Linked DNA regions of Homo sapiens. The protein of the gene in region 2 purifies or fractionates together with the protein of the main gene of each other region. This does not show direct contact. Each region holds a gene or a part of one and is shown on either strand. Other genes may lie near its edges.

Region 1 (3,652 bases), on a different chromosome or scaffold from region 2:
ATTTGAAGAGCTTTCAGGTTTTTTCAAACTTCTTTTTGTGCATTGGTTTTTTTTTGTTGTTGTTGAGACGGAGTCTGGCTCTGTCGCCCAGGCTGGAGTGCAGTGGCATGATCTCGGCTCACTACAGGCCTCCTGGGTTCATGCCAGTCTCCTGCTTCAGCCTCCCAAGTAGCTGGGACTACAGGCGCCTGCCACCACGCCTGGCTAATTTTTTGTATTTTTTAGTAGAGATGGGGTTTCACCGCGTTAGCCAGGATGGTCTCGATCTCCTGACCTCGAGATCCGCCCCCCTCAGCCTCCCAAAGTGCTGGGATTACAGGCGTAAGCCACCGCACCCAGCCTGTGCAGCCTGTTTTTAAAAAGGATTCAAAGTGGTGAGGTTTCTCTGTACTTCATCTTAATATGAGAATATGGATAGATATATCTCAGACTGTTAAAAGGGCCTGGTGGCCAGGCATGATGGCTCACGCCTGTAATCCCAGCACTTTGGGAGGCCGACGCAGGTAGATCACTTGAGGTCGGGAGTTTGAGACCAGCCTGGCTAACATGGCGAAACCCCATGTCTACTAAAAAAAAAAACAAAAATTAGCTGGGTGTGGTGCCATGTGCCTGTAATCTCAGCTACTCGGGAGGCTGAGGAAGGAGAATCACTTGAACCCGGGAGGTGGAGGTTGCAGTGAGCCGAGATCGTGCCACTGCACTCCAGCCTGGGTGACAGAGTGAGAATCTATTTCAAAAAAAAAAAAGAAGCTGGGGGAGCTTGGATTGAAAGGGAGGAAAAGATGTATTACATTTTCTCTTGTTTTCTAGTGAGTTATTCTCCCCACCTCAGAAGTACCAGCTTTTGGTGTATCATGCAGATTCTCTCTTTCATGATAAGGAATATCGGAATGCTGTGAGTAAGTATACCATGGCTTTACAGCAGAAGAAAGCGCTAAGTAAAACTTCAAAAGTGAGACCTTCAACTGGAAATTCTGCATCTACTCCACAAAGTCAGGTAATTGGAGATAGAATTGTGATTTTTTTTTTTTTTTTTTGAGAAAGACTCCAAGAATTTAGAACAGGGTCCCCAGGCCCCAGTGCCTGGTCTGTTAGGAACCAGGCTGCACAGCAGGAGGTGGGTGGAGGGCTAGTGAATATTACTGCCTGAGCTCCGCCTCCTGTCAGATCAGCTGCGGCATTAGATTCTTATAGGAACACAAACCCTATTGTGAACTACACATGCTAGGATCTAGGTTGTGTGTTCCTTATTATAATCTGACTAATGCCTGAAGATCTGAGGTGGAACAGTTTCATCCTGAAACCACCCCCTCACCCCCCATCTGTGGAAAAATTGTCTTTCATGAAACTGGTCCCCTGGTGCCAAAAAGGTTGGGGACCGCTGATTTAGATGATAGCTGATTAGATGTAGAAGATGAGGCCAGAAGCTGGGCGCAGTGGCTCACGCCTGTAATCCCAGCACTTTGGGAGGCCTAGGCGGGCGGATCACGAGGTCAGGAGATTGAAACCATCCTGGCTAACACGGTGAAACGCCGTCTCTACTAAAAATACAAAAAATTAGCCAGGCATGGTGGTGGATGCCTGTAGTCCCAGCTACTTGGGAGGCTGAGGCAGGAGACACCAGCCTGGGTGACAGAACGAGACTCTGTCTCAAAAAAAAAAAAAGAAGATGAGGCCAGGCACAGTGGCTCACACCTGTAATCCAAGCACTTCCAGAGGCGGAGGTAGGAGGACTTGAGGTCAGGAGTTTGAGACTAGCCTTGGCAACATAGTGAGACCCCTGTCTTTACAAAACGGCATGGTGGCACATACCTGTAGTACTCAGAAGGCCAAGGTGGGAGGATCGCTTGAGACTAGGAGTCTAAGACTGCAGTAAATCATGTTTGCACCACTGCATTGCAGCCTGGGCAACAGAGCGAGACCCTGTCTCAAAAAAAAAAAAAAGAATTGCTGGGTCATATGATAACTCTATGTTTAACGTTTTGAAGAACTGTCATATTGTTGGAATAACGTTTCAAAGAAATATTTCCATTGTCTTTTAGTGTCTTCCATCTGAAATTGAAGTGAAATACAAAATGGCTGAATGTTATACAATGCTAAAACAAGATAAAGATGCCATTGCTATACTTGATGGGATCCCTTCAAGACAAAGAACTCCCAAAGTAAGTTGAATGTTTATGTGTTTTTCTCCTCAGCTCTCCTAACCCTGCTCCCTCTCTCCATGTTTTCTCATGCATTAAGGAGTCCGTGTGAACATTTTACCCATGATTCTAATTCTCATTTTCTTCCTCTTCATGGAGTGGGGGTGGGGGACCCTGAAAATCCAGCTGATGAAAATGATAGCTGGAGAATACTACACATGCTTATTCTTTGTTTTTTCTTTTTTATTTTTTATGTTTAACTTAATTTAATATTTTTTGAGACAGAGTCTCACTGTCACCCAGGCTACAGTACAGTGTTGTGATCCTGGCTCACTGCAGCTTCAACCTCCCAGGCTTAAGCAATCCTCCCACCTCAGCCTCCCAAATAGCTGGGATTACAGTTGCATGCTGCCACACCCAGCTAATTTTTTTTTTTTTTTTTTTTTTTTTTTGAGGTGGAATTTCACTCTTGTTGCCCAGGCTGGAGTGCAATAGCATGGGGGCTCACTGCAAAGTTGCCCAGGCTGGAGTGCAATAGCATGGGGGCTCACTGCAACCTCCATCTCCCAAGTACAAGTGATTCTCCTGCCTCAGCCTCCCGAGTAGCTGGGATTATAGGCGCCTGCCACCACGCCAGGCTAATTTTTTTGTATTTTTAGTAGAGATGGGGTTTTGCCATGTTGGCCAGGCTGGTCTTGAACTCCTGACCTCAGGTGATCCGCCCACCTCGGCCTCCCAAAGTGTTGGGATTACAGGCGGGAGCCACCGCACCTGGCCAATTTTTTTTATTTTTGGTAGAGATAAGGTTCCACTGTGTTGCCCAGGTTGGTCTCAAACTCCTGGGCTCAAACTGTCCTCCCACTTTGGCCTCCCAAAGTGCTGGGATTACAGGTGTGAGATGCCACTCCAAGCCTATTTTTTATTTTTGTTTTGTTTTTTTTGTTTTGAGACAGAGTCTTGCTCTGTTGCCCAGGCTGGAGTGCAGTGGTGCGATCTCGGCTCATTGCAACCACCACCTCCCGGGTTCAAGTGATTCTCCTGCCTCAGCCTCCTGGGTAGCTGGGATTACAGGCACCCGCCACCACGCCCAGCTAATTTTTTTTTTGTATTTTTAGTAGAGATGGTGTTTCACCATGTTGGCCAGGCTGGTCTCGAACTCCTGACTTTGTGATTCGCCTGCCACGGCCTCCCAAAGTGCTAGGATTACAGGCGTGAGCCACCATGTCCGGCTATTTTTTTTTTTTTTTTTTTTTTGAGAGGGAGTTTCGCTCTTGGTGCCCAGGCTGGAGTGCAATGGTGCAATCTCAGCTCACTGCAACCTCTGCCTCCCGGGTTCAAGCAGTTCTCCTGCCTCAGTCTCCCAAATAGCTGGGATTACAGGCATGCGCCACCATGCCCAACTAATTTTGTAATTTTAGTAGAGACTGGGTTTCTCCATGTTGGTCAGGCTGGTCTTGAACTCCCGACTTCAGGTGATCCACCCACCTCGGCCTCACAGAGTGCTGGGGTTA
Region 2 (3,652 bases):
GAGCATTCATTTTCAGAGAAATGAATAAGTTATATTTAAATGAAAAAATAAATTATAAGTAAGAATGAAAAGCACTTTAGTTAAGCCCCCAGTCATGTTTAGCATTAATTTTGAAAATGTATACTTTTCCATTAGATCAAACTAAGTTATTATTTATTTATTTATTTTATTTATTTTGAGACAGAGTCTCACTCTGTTGCTGAGGCTGGAGTGCAATGGCACAATCTTGGCTCACTGCAACCTCTGCCTCCTGGGTTCAAGCGATTCTCGTGCCTCAGCCTGCAAGTAGCTGCGATTACAGGCGCATACCACCATGCCTGGCTAATTTTTGTGTTTTTAGTAGAGACAGTGTTCCACTATATTGGCCAGGCTGGTCTCAAACTACTGACCTCAAGTGATCTGCCTGCCTCGGCCTCCCAAAGTGCTTGGATTACAGGCATGAGCCACTGCGCCTGGCCTATTATTATAATGTCATAATGCAGTAGTTCTCAAAGTAGAGTCCCCAGACCAGCAGCATCAACGTGATCTAGTAACTTGTTAGAAATGGACATTTTTGTGCCTTCTTTTTTTGGACACATTTGTGTCCAAACCTACTGAATCAGAAACCTTGGGGTTAGGGTGTAGTAATATGTAGTTTAACAAGCCCTCCAGGTGATTCTGAAACATAAAGTGGAGAACTCCTACTATACTGAACATACTTTAGGAATTCCTGTTGCCTTCTAAAGCACTATTTCTTTAATTTTCAGCTTCTCCAATTTGGGAAATACCTGCTATATGAATGCTATTCTACAATCTCTATTTTCACTCCAGTCATTTGCAAATGACTTGCTTAAACAAGGTATCCCATGGAAGAAAATTCCACTCAATGCACTTATCAGGTAATCATTATGTACTGTACTTACTGAGTAACCTTTTACTTCATTGATTATAGAATAATGGAATTTTAGACACTCAAAAATTTTCTGTGCCATTATTAGTAATTATTCTTTAAAATATCACGCCATGTCATGTAAAACGTGCTAACTTTGTGTTTTTTGTTTTACTAGACGCTTTGCACACTTGCTTGTTAAAAAAGATATCTGTAATTCAGAGACCAAAAAGGATTTACTCAAGAAGGTTAAAAATGCCATTTCAGCTACAGCAGAGAGATTCTCTGGTTATATGCAGAATGTGAGTATTAATTGTTTTAAAACGTTTCAGAGGCCTGACACGGTGGCTCACGTCTGTAATTCCAGCACTTTGGGAGGCCTAGGTGGGCAGGTCACCTGAGGTCACTGAGGTCAGGAGTTTGAGACCAGCCTGGCCAACATGGCGAAACCCTGTGTCTACTAAAAATACAAAAATTAGCCAGGCGTGGTGGCATGCGCCTGTAATCCCAGCTTCTCGGGAGCCTGAGGCAGGAGAATTGCTTGAACCCGGGAGGCAGAGGTTGTAGTGAGCCAAGATCATACCACTGCACTATAGCCTGGGTGACAGAGCAAGACTCCATCTCAAAAAATAAATAAATAAATATTTATAAAAATAAATAAAATAGGCCAGGTGCGGTGGCTCACGCCTATAATCCCAGCACTTTGGGAGGCCACGGTGGGTGGATCATGAGGTCAGGAGTTTGAGACCAGCCTGGCCAACATGGTGAAACCCTGTCTCTACTAAAGATTAAAAAAAATTAGCCGGGCATGGTGGCACATGCCTGTAATCCCAGCTACTCAGGAAGCTGAGGCCGGAGAATCTCTTGAACCTGGGAGGCAGAGGTTGCAGTGAGCTGAGATCGCACCATTGCACTCCAACCTGGGCTACAGGGCAAGACTCTGTCTCAAAAAAATAAAAATAAAACAAATAAATAACGTGTAAGAAATCATGGAAATTGACATGATTTTAGTGTGTTTCTTGATTTTTATTTTAAAACGAGATTTGTGTATGTGTGTTCATTATAGATTGAAAAACCTGAGGAGAGGCTGGGTGCGGTAGCTCATGCCTGTAATCCCAGCACTTTGAGAGGCCGAGGCGGGTGGATCATCTGAGGTCAGGAGTTCCAGACCAGCCTGACTGATGAGGTGAAACCCCATCTCTACTAAAAATACAAAAAAATTAGCCAGGCGTGATGTCGCATGTCTGTAATCCCAGCTACTTGGGAGGCTGATGCAGGATAATCGGTTGAACCCTGGAGGCAGAGGTTGCAGTGAGCCGAGATTGTGCCATTGTACTCCAGCCTGTGTGACAAGAGCGAAAATCTGTCTCAAAGAAAGAAAGAAAGAAAGAAAAACCTAAGGAGCTGTAGTAAGATTAAATGTGACTCTTCAAATATAGATTTGATTTACCAGTGCAAGGACCTGGGCTGTGTTACCTGCGAAAATTACCTCTTTTAACAAAGTGAGGAGTTATTCATTGATTCATGTCAGTGCAACTGATATAATTATTAAGAATATATAATCTGTCATTTGTTTTTATTCACAAAATATGCAGCTCCCCAAATTCTTATAAGAATAAACCTGACATTGTTCACATATGTCATTGACTTTCAAGGGTTTTCACTGTATAAATTATAATGTTAATAAGCTATTATTTTTTGTTTGTTTTGTTTTTTGTTGTTGGTTTTTTTTTCTTTTCTTTTGAGACGGAATCTTGCTCTGTCACCCAAACTGGAATATAATGGTGCGATCTTGGCTCACTGTAACCTCTGCCTCCCAGGTTCAAGAAATTTTTCTGCCTCAGCCTCCCAAGTAGCTGGGATTACAGGGACTGCCACCACACCTGGCTAATTTTTGTATTTTTAATAAAGATGGCATTTCACCATGTTGGCCGGGCTGGTCTCGAACTCCTGACCTCAAGTGATCCGCCTGCCTCAGCCTTCCAGAGTGCTGGAATTACAGGTATGAGGCACAACACCCAGCCTCAGTAAGCTATTGTGACAAGAAATGTTTTTATCTGATTAAGGATATTGTTGTCTTATTAGGATGCTCATGAATTTTTAAGTCAGTGTTTGGACCAGCTGAAAGAAGATATGGAAAAATTAAATAAAACTTGGAAGACTGAACCTGTTTCTGGAGAAGAAAATTCACCAGATATTTCAGCTACCAGAGCATACACTTGCCCTGTTATTACTAATTTGGAGTTTGAGGTTCAGCACTCCATCATTTGTAAAGCGTAAGTAGTGTCTAAGAAATGATTTCCCTTTTTACTTCTTTATGGCAAGTGATTAAAATTCTTCTATGACATACCAAATGCCATGAATTCTTTTCTGTTTTTAAGACAGGGTCTCACACAGTTGCCTAGGCTCTTGGGTGCAGTGGCACAACCCCAGCTTATTGCAGCCTGGATCTCCTGGGATCAAGTGATCCTCCTACCTCAGCCTCCCGAGTAATGAATTTTTATCTCATCTTCCTTTCTACGTCATAGGGGAAATATAAACCAACAGATTATATCAAACCTTTTTTTCAGAGTCTTTTTCTATAGAAATGCTTGGGCTGGGCACAGTGGCTCATGCCTGTAATCCCAACAATTTGGGAGGATGAGGTGGGCAGATGGTTTGAGCCCAGGAGTTCAAGACCAGCCTGGGCAACATGGGGAAACCCCATCTCTACAAAATATATAAAAATTAGGCAGGTGTGGTGATGCACACCTATAATCCCAGCTACTTGGAAGGCTGAAGTGG

Evidence for each region.
Region 1: the proteins of USP37 (region 2) and ANAPC7 purify together in Homo sapiens (affinity purification with western blotting, with the first as the bait; one study listed by BioGRID). This does not show direct contact.

Annotation. Positions count from the first base shown.
Region 1 is NC_000012.12:110,393,611-110,397,262, reverse strand, and holds part of ANAPC7 (anaphase-promoting complex subunit 7), read left to right. Parts: intron 1-810; coding exon 811-997; intron 998-2,042; coding exon 2,043-2,162; intron 2,163-3,652. UniProt on the Homo sapiens protein: Component of the anaphase promoting complex/cyclosome (APC/C), a cell cycle-regulated E3 ubiquitin ligase that controls progression through mitosis and the G1 phase of the cell cycle.
Region 2 is NC_000002.12:218,495,252-218,498,903, reverse strand, and holds part of USP37 (ubiquitin carboxyl-terminal hydrolase 37), read left to right. Parts: intron 1-746; coding exon 747-878; intron 879-1,046; coding exon 1,047-1,170; intron 1,171-2,953; coding exon 2,954-3,144; intron 3,145-3,652. UniProt on the Homo sapiens protein: Deubiquitinase that plays a role in different processes including cell cycle regulation, DNA replication or DNA damage response.